Linked DNA regions of Homo sapiens. The protein of the gene in region 3 interacts with the protein of the main gene of each other region in a pairwise test. Each region holds a gene or a part of one and is shown on either strand. Other genes may lie near its edges.

Region 1 (3,500 bases), on a different chromosome or scaffold from region 3:
GGTCAGTTTTAAACAGCAAAATCACCAGTAAAAAAACCCAAAAGGTAAAAAGTAAGGCACTACATAGAATGCAAAAAGGCCACTTGTTTACAGTATGAGAGCTAAAACAAAATGAGTTGGTTTGTTTGATCTCACCTGGAAATGTGCATGTCTTCAGATGACTCAAATTTTTCACTGCTCTAAGTATGTCTACTAGATGACCAAGAAATCCCTGCAGCTGTTTTGAGGGTTATGAATAAATTTTAGCAAGTAGTCAAATTTGCAAATAGAGAATCCTTGATGGAGGATTAGCTACTTAGGAATATATCTCTGATAAGGCCTTTTTTTTTTTGGTAGCAAAACCACAATACTATTTTAACACTTAGAAAAATAATATCAGAGTTAAATGAAAAATACGTGCAGTTTACAAAAAGAAAAGTGCAAATGAAAACTTCAAGGAATTACTATTTCACCTGAGATTGAAAGAGCAAAAGTTTGGTAATACTACATGTAGGTCCACATCCTTTATGTGAAACCTTAGGTTAAATATACTATGGGGCCAGGCGCAGTAGCGCATTCCTGTAATCCCAGCACTAAAGAGAGGCATAAGCTGGAGGATAGCTTCAGCCCAGGAGTTTGAGACCTGCCTAGGCAACATTAGGAAGACCTCATTCTCCACATAAAGGGGCAGTGAGTGGGAGGGTGTAGAAAAATATGCTTTGGGATTCCGAATTTTTGGAATTTTGAAAGGGTATTTAGTACATATACTATAATAAGTAGCATCGCTGGCAGGCTATGGGACAAGTGCTCCATAATCAATATATCTGAATAGTTAACAGCAAACTATAGATATTCTCCCTAAGTAAGACTAATAAAGAGTGCAAATAGTCTTAGGTCAGTTCAGGTCAGATTTTGCTGTCAAATGAGCACAGGTTGGGGCAAGTTTACAGAAATAAAAAACATGAGGGCCTTAAATCTGCATTAAATATTTTCTTGTATATTTATACAGTAGAGCCATTTAAAAGAATGAAATTTTATTTACTCATCAAACATCATCTTGAAGATGAAGTAAAAAAGACAAGCAGAACAACATTATATATATAGTATACTACCATTTTTAAGCAACAGTTTTACAGAAAAGTGGGAAGTTGCATATATGTTTATATGTTGTATATAGAATATCCCTGAGAAGGCTATATGACAAACAGAAAAAGATTACCTTCCTGGCTGCAAACTAGAAGCTGAAATGGGAGAAGAGACTTTCTTTATTCACTCTTTGTTATTCTTTGAATTGTCATGTGCATATATCACCTTTTTAAAAAAAATTTAATCTCAAAATGTAGTAGGATAATGACTGATGACTCAACTTTCCCAAATACTATCTTACCTCTTTCTGAAAATTATGAATTTAAAATATTCTGATACCCTCTAAAGTTACTTTATATGTAAAAATTCAAGCTAAAACCAATGGCAGAATTTTTGTTCCTCACAAATTTTACCAATAAACTATTTACAGATAAGTATTTTTTATTTCTTTACCAAGTCTCTGCCTCTGAAACAAAATTCTGTGTTAAGCTGCTTTTAAAAATCATAATCGGCCGGGTGTGGCTCACACCTGTAATCTCAGCACTTTGGGAGGCCAAAGCAGGAGGATTGCTTGAGCCCAGGAAAATATTTAAATTCTTATTTCCACTAATTAAAAGATAAATACATGTAACTGTTGAACATTGCCATGAAATTTCTTCTACAGATAAAATAAGAAATTGTTAATAAAGATTTGTTTTACTGACGGCAGTTTATTGAGGTTAGTTGTATTCACTATAACAGTTAGTGGATGATTTTCCTATTCCTGATTACTGTAAAAAGTAATGCAAAACATTTTATTTTCATGCCCTTTTCTTTTTAGATGGAAATTCCTTCTTCCAGCATTATAAATCAGTACATTGCTTGTCAAGGGCCATTACCACACACTTGTACAGATTTTTGGCAGATGACTTGGGAACAAGGCTCCTCTATGGTTGTAATGTTGACCACACAAGTTGAACGTGGCAGAGTAAGTCATAGTTGAATCTTACACATTGCTTGGACTTTTTTCAAATTATACTGCACATATGTAGTCAAAATATTCATATTTATTTAAGCCTTTGTAACCTTTAATCTTCTTTTCTTGTGGTTTCTTGTTTTAAATCATCATGTTTAAGTGCATAAAACTGTGACTAACACATAAATAAATGTGACATAAGTGTTAGCCATTACTGTCATTGTTATTTAAAGGGATTAATATACATTTGTTAAGGGTCTTGTGTCTAACGTATATACAGAACTCTACAGTAAAATAAATAATGCAATTTAAAAATGGGCAATGGATCTGAATAGACAGTTCTCCAAAGAAGATATACAAATGGCTAAGAAGCACACGAAAAGGTGCTCAACATCATTATCAGGGAGATGCAGATCAAAACCTTAATGAGACTTTATATCCTAGAGGATGGCCAAAATAAAAAGGACGTATAAAAACAAGTTCTAGGGATGATATGGAAAAAACAGAACCCTCCTATTGTGGGTTTGTAAAACCATCCAGCCATTTTGGAAAACAGTCTTGTAGTTCCTCAAAGAGTTAAACGTCGAGTTGGTATAACTTAGTACTTCCATTCCTAAATCCAAAAGAGTTGAAAAGGTCTGTCCACACAAAAATTTGTACATGAGCATTCATAACAGCATTATTTATAATGGCCAAAATGTAGAAACAACTCAAATATACAAATAAAATGTGGTATAGTCTTATGGTTGGATATTATTTGGCAATAAAAAGGAACGAAGTAGTGATACATACTACAGCATGGGTAAACCTGGAAAACACTTAGCATAGTGAAAGAGGTCAAAAAGACCACATAGTGTATGATTGCATTTATATGAAATGTCCAGGATAGGCAACTCTGTAGAGACATGAAGTAGATCAGTGGTGGTCTAGATCTGGGGTAAGGATGGGGGAACGGATGAGGAAGAATGAACAATGACTACTAATTGGTATAGGGTTTATTTTGGGTGTAATGGGAATGTTCTAAAAGGGATTGTGGTGATGGTTGCACAGTTCTGTGAATATACTGAAAACTATTGTATACATTAAACGAGTGAACGGTATGGTACATGAATTACTTGTCATTACAGCTGTTTTAAAAAATCTTAAGATTTAATGAGGATTTTTGCTGCCTCAAAATATAGCCAGATTACTTACTATTAAAAAGGGAAAAAAGTGACAAAGAAAAAATGTCGGCTGGGCGCAGTGGCTCACACCTGTAATCCCAGCACTTTGGGAGACGGAGGCAGGTGGATCACCTGAGGTCAGGAGTTCGAGACCAGCCTGACCAATATGGTGAAACCCCGTCTCTACTAAAAATACAAAATTAGCCAGGCTTGGTGGCACATGCCTGTAATCCCAGCTACTTGGGAGGCTGAGGCAGGAGAATCGCTTGAACCCAGGAGGCAGAGGTTGCAGTGAGCCAAGATCGTGCTATTGCACT
Region 2 (3,471 bases), about 90 Mb from region 3:
TTTCCAACAAAATCCCAGAGTTTTTGCTTGCTCTTTGAGGTTAAAATCAAAGATTTTTCACTCAGGATTAGCCTAGATGTAGAACAGCGACTGTATAATAAAGTTGAGTTCAAAAAGTGTATGAATTCAGTTATGGTCTGGAAAATTAGCTGCCATTTTGTGATGAAGTGTTTGGTTTTTCCTTGTAGAAACTTAGTGTCATTGCGCATCAACTTAGAAAATGTGAATTGATTAAAAATATGTGATGGATTGTGCAGCATGCTTACATTTGAAAATGGAGATTGTGCCTTTAAATACTTAATCAAAGGACTCCTGACCTTCAAGTACCAGTTTGGGCATATTACTGGAGATCCAGGTTGAAAGGTATTGAAAAAAAAGCTCTGTATCTTTGTATATTCAGTTGTCAACATGGAGAAGCCACCTTTTAAAAAAGATCAGTTCTGTAAAGCATAATGCCTACTACACAGACATCATTATTCTACTTAAAAGTCTTTTTTTAAAATTCCAAATACTTGTGGTAGTAGAAAGCAATAAATATTCTAAAATGAGGGATATTGGTCCTTTTGTGACTGAGCTATATGATAAACTAAGGAAAACTACAGAAGTTATGTCTATTAACTCTTTAAGGTACATGATATAGCAAATAATCATTTGTACAACCTCATAGAAAGTTGAGAGGATTAATCAAATTGTTTCAAAATTTTTAAGGAGCCAAATTTAAATTCTCAATACCCTATGAGATTTTTTAAACTATTTTAGATTCTTACCAGAAGAATGCATAGATGTAGTAAAACCATTAAATACAGTAGTATCTGGTGGCCTTTCTGTGTGGAGGAGCTCGTTTGTCCAAGGTATGATCTACCAGTGAGAAGATCAGTGCCAGGTCACAGAAAAAGCTAATCATTTTTAGTTTAATCCTGACCAGCTAGTCTTCCTCCAGGCATCAGCTACCTGATTTTAAAGAGACCATATTAGAAATGAAAAGCAGCAGTCTCTATCATATGTTAAATTCAAAGGCATAGCTGCTCGTGAAGACCCTATTATGTTTTATTTGCCTATCGGAGAAAGAGATCTGCCTACCTGCCTTTAGGAAAAAGCAATGCTTTATGTAGCTTCAATTAGTCCTGCATCAGGTTATTCTAATGCTTCCTACTGCAAAAACCAAGCCCACAAGTCTCCAATCCTAAAAGTCACTAGAATATTGATATAAGGAATTCTGTGTCAGCAGTATCTCAGTATTCAAACCTCTGTTTAGGGTCCTGCATGTACTATCAAACAGCAAGTGATAGAACATTCAGGCGTTTTATTGGATTTCAGAATTCAGATTCAGAATTAAGTACTCTTGGGATAAAGGAAATTAACGAGCTTTTGACATTTCAAGAACTCATTGAGATTGTCAAAGGCTTCAGTAATGAACTCTAACAAATAGATCCAGAAGTCATAAGTGAGAAAGAAAACAAGCATGTCTAGTGAAATCTGTCCAGTGTACGTAACACTGCACAAAGAGCATATTTTATTCAGACCATTTGGATTCAGATGTACCCTAAAGACAACTATGCTATAATGGCTTGTCTCCTACTTCCTGGCCTCTAGCCCTACCCATTGCCCAGGTGGACGTTATGTTTTTAGTTTTTCCTTTGTGGGTGAGGGAAGAAGAGGACATCAGGTGAAGTGTGCCATTACTATTTGAAAACTAGCTCTGCAGGAAGGGTTAAATCAAATCCTTTACAGGGTGACCTTCCTACATCTCCTTAGAGCAACTGCATTTCAAAATAGGCCAAAGCTGAAGTCATAGGAATGAGACATTAATTGTAGGTTTTCAGGAAAGCTTCGGAGACACGGCAGGTACAGTCTCCTTAGAGCCTTTGAAAATACAACATGTAGGTCCTTCTCAGATTATGCTGAAACTCCAAATCCTTGTTAAAGGTTTTCCTGGACTCCTACAGTCTGGTTTGATCAGTTTATTATTAAGTACTGAATGACAGAGAAGGGTACACAGGGAGGACTTGTATCACATGAAGTAAAATAATTATTTCCTTAATGAGAAACTTAATTCTAGGGTACTTACAATAGCTGCCTTATTGGGGGAAGGGAGGCATAGATTTGCAAATGGTGGGTTTTTTCGTTTTTTTGTGTGTTGGAGTAATTGAAAAGATACATCAAGCAATAATAAACTAGATGTGCAATAATCTTGTCGAGTAGTATGTGCTGGTTTTGGAAAGGTGAAAAGAAAATTGTTACATCAGGCTGCTTTTATCAAGCTAAGCATGGGCATGCCTTTCCAAAGGGTATATTTGATCCTACAGTTAATTTTAACATTGGGCTGCAAGCTTAACCTCATCAGGAGTGGAATTAGATTTTACAAAGTTCCCCTTATCCAAACTACAGCACGCTTACTACTTTCTCCTTCCATTTTCCACACCTCAGCCCCCTAGGACCAGCTACTGGTAAGTCATTTTGTCCATTTTCATTGATCTGGCCACATAAGGAACATCCTGTTTCTTTAAATCCTCAATGCTTAAATTGCCATGTAGAAATCAACTCCCTATCAATTTTCTACATTTAATCCTTGGCTTCTTGTCATATTTTCATTTTTCTGCACTGGTTCCCATGGCAACAAGTCTGTTGGCAGAGAAAGTATGACTCTGCTTTTAGCCTTCTGCACAAGACAAAATCCTTCTGGTGATCCTCAGGCAAGTATAATATAAAAAGTCAGGAATTGACTACAGTTCCCTTGGCTAATGCCTCTAATCCTTTACTCTCTTGCATGCATTTTCCACCTTATTCCCAAACCAGGCTTGAGAAAAAAAGCATTCAAGGGCCCTGCCCAGTATCTCTTTACTGATACAAGTATTCAAAGGCCCTCCTATCCAATCACAGCCACAAAGACTGAATATTTTGGTTCAGATGGCTTTCCCTTCTCCCTAAGTGTCAGTGACTTAACTGACATAAATGCATAATTAATGACAAGGACCACTGGGAGCAGCATCGAGAAGCAACTTTCAGTCATTTTTCTATAAACAACTTTCCTCAGTTCGCAACTGAGGTGTAGCCCAGGGAATAAGTATGTCCTGAATTGAGCCTTAAATCAGTGACTAATAAGGCAATGGAACACTCAAGCAGATTTTCCTCTAATGAGTAGTTAAGTGGCACAGGAGGAGAGGCCAAGGAGTCATCCCAGAGTTCTAAGCTCATAAAGAGGAAGAGATAACAAAAGATGTAGATAAGAGGACATTGTTAACTGGTGGCTGCAAATGAGCAAGGGAGCTTCATTCAGTTGGGACAATTCAGGGTTCAGGTACGAAAAGGGTATGAAGCCTACTGAAAAATAAGGAAATGGAGCATGGAGAAAGAAAGGGTTTTTAAGAGTTAAGTCAGTAGAAAGGGAGCCTGCAAATGAGACAATAGCTTCATGCAGACTTTGGCCCAACTCTGTCTACAAATACTTTTGCAAATAATGTTTCTCTTAAT
Region 3 (3,500 bases):
ATAGGAACAGGTGCTGAGCCCGAAGTGTGAATGCAGTCACTTAAAAAACAACAGACTGTGAACAAAAACATGCATTTTGACACCTGCTTTACTTCAGGAATGGAGGTGGCAGATATAAGGGATGGGAGAGTTGAGAATTTTCAGCAAAGAGTGAGAATCTCAGGTAGGGGGGTGGTCGCGATGGTGGAGGCCGGCTGGTACTTGGGCCTTTCAGCTGGATCTGGTTTTCTAGATAAGAACTGGCCAAGTTGCCAGATCCAAGGCATTGGGCTGAGGCAACAGGAGGTTCTCAGGATGGGGATACCCAGCCCTGCCACCCTCATCCCCAGTCACACTGCATCTCACACCCTGAGGCCCACTCTACCACTTTCCTACAATCCAGCCTTTGCTGACAGTGCCCCCATATGTTCTTCCCTCACACTCCATCCTCACAGCTCAACTCTCCCCATCCACAGCAAGCCCGAGGTTGGCTAACTTCCCCTTCCCAACTAGCTGCTTTTCACATCTTTGCACCCCAGGGCAGGGGCTGGGTGAGCAGGCTTTGAAGGTCTTTTGGGGCCAGGGACAGTTGGGGCCTACCTCGAGCAGCAGGCTAGGAAGAGGGGGGCATTTGTTTTTGGAGTGTACAGGACACTCACTGACTTACGGGTCAGCACAACTCACCCACCTCCCATTGTCCACCCTCTCCCTGAAGACACCTCAAGCTGCCTGCTTTCCTTCTTGGTTCTTCCACAGCTCACCTGGTGGGCAGGTACGGGCCAGTTCTCTGCCTAGGCCAAGGGAGGAAGCAGCTCAAAGCCTGGTGGTGGAAATTGTGGGGCCTGCCTGTTGGTAAAAATTAAATGGAGAATCCAGAAGCCCTGGTTGCCTTCCCACCAGCTTAGTGTCCCGTCTTCCCGCCGGCCCCCACCTGGGACAGATGCCAGGGGCATTACTCACCTTTTCTCCTGCAGCCTTTCCACCCCCAGTGTTCTCTTCAAGACGGACTAGGAATGGGTCTGGGGAAGGCTAGGGAATGGGGTGCTATGGGACATGAATGTGCACACGTGTCTGCTTTTGTGTGCTGTGTTGGGGGGCAGGTACCTTCTGGGAGCTGGGATGGGGGTGGGGGTGCCAGAGAGACAGCGGAGCAGGTCTCTACAGAACCTGCCTAGCCAGGGTGGGTGGAGCTGGGTGGGGCAGGCAGGAGTGATTCCAGGTTTCAGAGGGGGAACAGAGTGTGGGTGTGTATGCGTATGGGTGGGTATTTTGGTGTGTTTGCGGATTTAGAGGTCCTCGGCCTCACCCCCAGCCTTAGACTGAGGGAAATTCAGGACGTAGGTGGAGAGGGGCTTGGCTCTGGCTTCCCCAACTGCTTTTGAGGTAGAATGCAAGCTCAGGTATCCTGGCCAGGAGCCCAGTCTGTGGGCCCTTCCCCTGCGGTGCACCCTGCACTGGGGTCTGCTGGTGAGAAGCTGCTCTGGAAGCCTAGATGCCTGGATGACACAAGCATGGCCAGGATCCCACCCCTCCTCTGCCACTCAGCCCAGTGAGGAGAAGGATCCTGCCCCCACCCTGGGGCTATGAGGATGGTGAGCTCATCTCTGGGGCTGTCCTGGGAGAATGCCTGGTTAACAGGGCGGGGGTGGGGCACCTGGTGCCAGCTCCTGGGCTCCCTGCTCTGCCCTTCCCACCCCTCAGCCCACCAAGATACAGCTGTTCTCTCTGGCCTCCTGGGCAGCACTGTCACCCAAGGACAGCCTTTTTCAGGGTTTAGGAATGAGGGTCAGGGCAAAATCTTCATCCTATTTTTGGTCCAGGGCTGGAGCTGGTCCTTGCCCACTCTGTACCTTAGTCTTTTCGGTGATAGCAAAAGCCCAGCCTCTCTGGATGGGTGGCTTGCCCATAGCCCAAGGCTGGATGGGGATGAAGGAACATCAAGGTTCTTAGTTGTGGTAGATGGATGGGTGCAGGAACCACCCCTTTTGGGGATAGAGGCTCTTTGGTTCTGGCTGTCTTAGCTGAGGCCTGTCTAGTCTCTGTCTCTTTGTCCCTGGTGAGAAGAGGGGGCAGGACGGAGTCAGCAAATCCTCTCCTGTCGTGGCCCTCTTGCAGTTGTGGCTACTCAAGGAACCAGTGTCCAGAGCAGTCTCATGGAGAAACCTGGTCTCACTCCAAGAGGAGCACTCCTCAAAGTCAGTGTTACTACGATTTTCCAACAATTAGAGGAGGCCAGAAATGGGCTGCCGTAGAAGTAGTGGCCATGGGCTAGTCACCTTCTCTCTCTGGGTCCCACTTTTTTATTTGTAAAATTTGAGGTTGTCCCTCTAAGGCCCCTTTCAGCTTGGTGCTGGGAACTGCTGAGAAGAGGGTGGTTCAGCCAGCTGTGTCCTCCTGAAGGGAAAAGGGAAAGGGAAAGGGAAAGGGGAAGGGGTGTCAGGGGAATGATATGGGCATAGTCAGAGGTTCAGGTACCTTCCTTCCGTCTGTGGAAGCTGTGTTGGATGTCTGCATTTTCAACCCACACCCATCAACTTCAGCCCCCCACCAGGGCCTGACAGCGCTGCCTGGGTTGAGCACATCTGTGAAACTCAGGGGAGGTGTGTGACAAGGAGGAAAACCAAGCAAGGCTCTGAAGTGCGACAGCTGTGTCTCGAGTCTCTGCTCTGCCTTGCACTGGCCTTAGGCCTTGGTGAGGTACTCTGACTGTACTCTGAGCTAGCACGGAGAGCTAGCTCCTGGGATCCTGGGCTGGGAGGTTGGACCCTGGGCTTAGTTCTTGCCACCTCCATGGCTGAAGGTGGGCTTCCAGCACTTTGAGTGGAACTTATATTGATATCCTTGGACCTTGGCACTATGGATGGTGATGATTAGGGAGCCAGGCAGCTAGGGGGTGCCCACATGCATACCCCTGCCCACGGGCTGCAGTGGGAAAGGGGTGCAAGGCATATGCAGGAAGACCCAGGCTCCTGAGTAGGAATCGGAGACCTTTAGTGGGCAGGGGCCCACAGACGACTCTTCAGGCAGGTTCTGAAGCAGTAATCACACCCATTTCCCTGTGTTCAGGCAGAACCACCCTTCCCTAGTCCCTGACTACGGAGAGAAAAATGGTCCTATCAGAGATCTCTGCCCCTGTCTGAGGAGAACTTGAGGCTTCTTGTCCTCTTTCCCATCGTCTTCCCGTCTGGCTGGAAGTCTTTTAAAAATCAAACCCAAGCACCCTTCTCAGCTGCTTCCAGCCCTGTCCTCGGTGGAGATGAGGAACACTAGGTGCCCTTTTTAGGTACATGTTTTGCTCTGTCCCTGCCCCCCTTTTCTTCCGTGGCCTACTCACCCTGGTTTCCACAGCTCTTTCTCCCAGCCCCGTCTGCATCTATGCTCTGTCTCATTACCTCACCCCAGGCCTAAAGTAGCCGGGACTGGGCTGCGGGGTGGGCCCGGGCTAGAGCAGTGGCAGGAGGTGGCGTCTGGAGCTGCCTGCGTCTGGTCATCGGCCCCCAGCACGCGCCACACATGGGGGT

Evidence for each region. The genes of interacting proteins can lie anywhere in the genome.
Region 1: the proteins of VANGL2 (region 3) and PTPN4 interact in a two-hybrid assay, tested with the Homo sapiens proteins (one large-scale study listed by BioGRID).
Region 2: the proteins of VANGL2 (region 3) and LRRC7 interact in a two-hybrid assay, tested with the Homo sapiens proteins (one large-scale study listed by BioGRID).

What each region holds. Positions count from the first base shown.
Region 1 is NC_000002.12:119,958,922-119,962,421, forward strand, and holds part of PTPN4 (tyrosine-protein phosphatase non-receptor type 4), read left to right. Parts: intron 1-1,885; coding exon 1,886-2,032; intron 2,033-3,500. UniProt on the Homo sapiens protein: Phosphatase that plays a role in immunity, learning, synaptic plasticity or cell homeostasis. Regulates neuronal cell homeostasis by protecting neurons against apoptosis.
Region 2 is NC_000001.11:70,137,922-70,141,392, forward strand, and holds part of LRRC7 (leucine-rich repeat-containing protein 7), read left to right. Parts: 3' UTR 1-3,471.
Region 3 is NC_000001.11:160,407,064-160,410,563, forward strand, and holds part of VANGL2 (vang-like protein 2), read left to right. Parts: intron 1-740; exon of another isoform or gene 741-825; intron 826-939; exon of another isoform or gene 940-1,192; intron 1,193-1,392; exon of another isoform or gene 1,393-1,571; intron 1,572-3,500. UniProt on the Homo sapiens protein: Involved in the control of early morphogenesis and patterning of both axial midline structures and the development of neural plate. Plays a role in the regulation of planar cell polarity, particularly in the orientation of stereociliary bundles in the cochlea.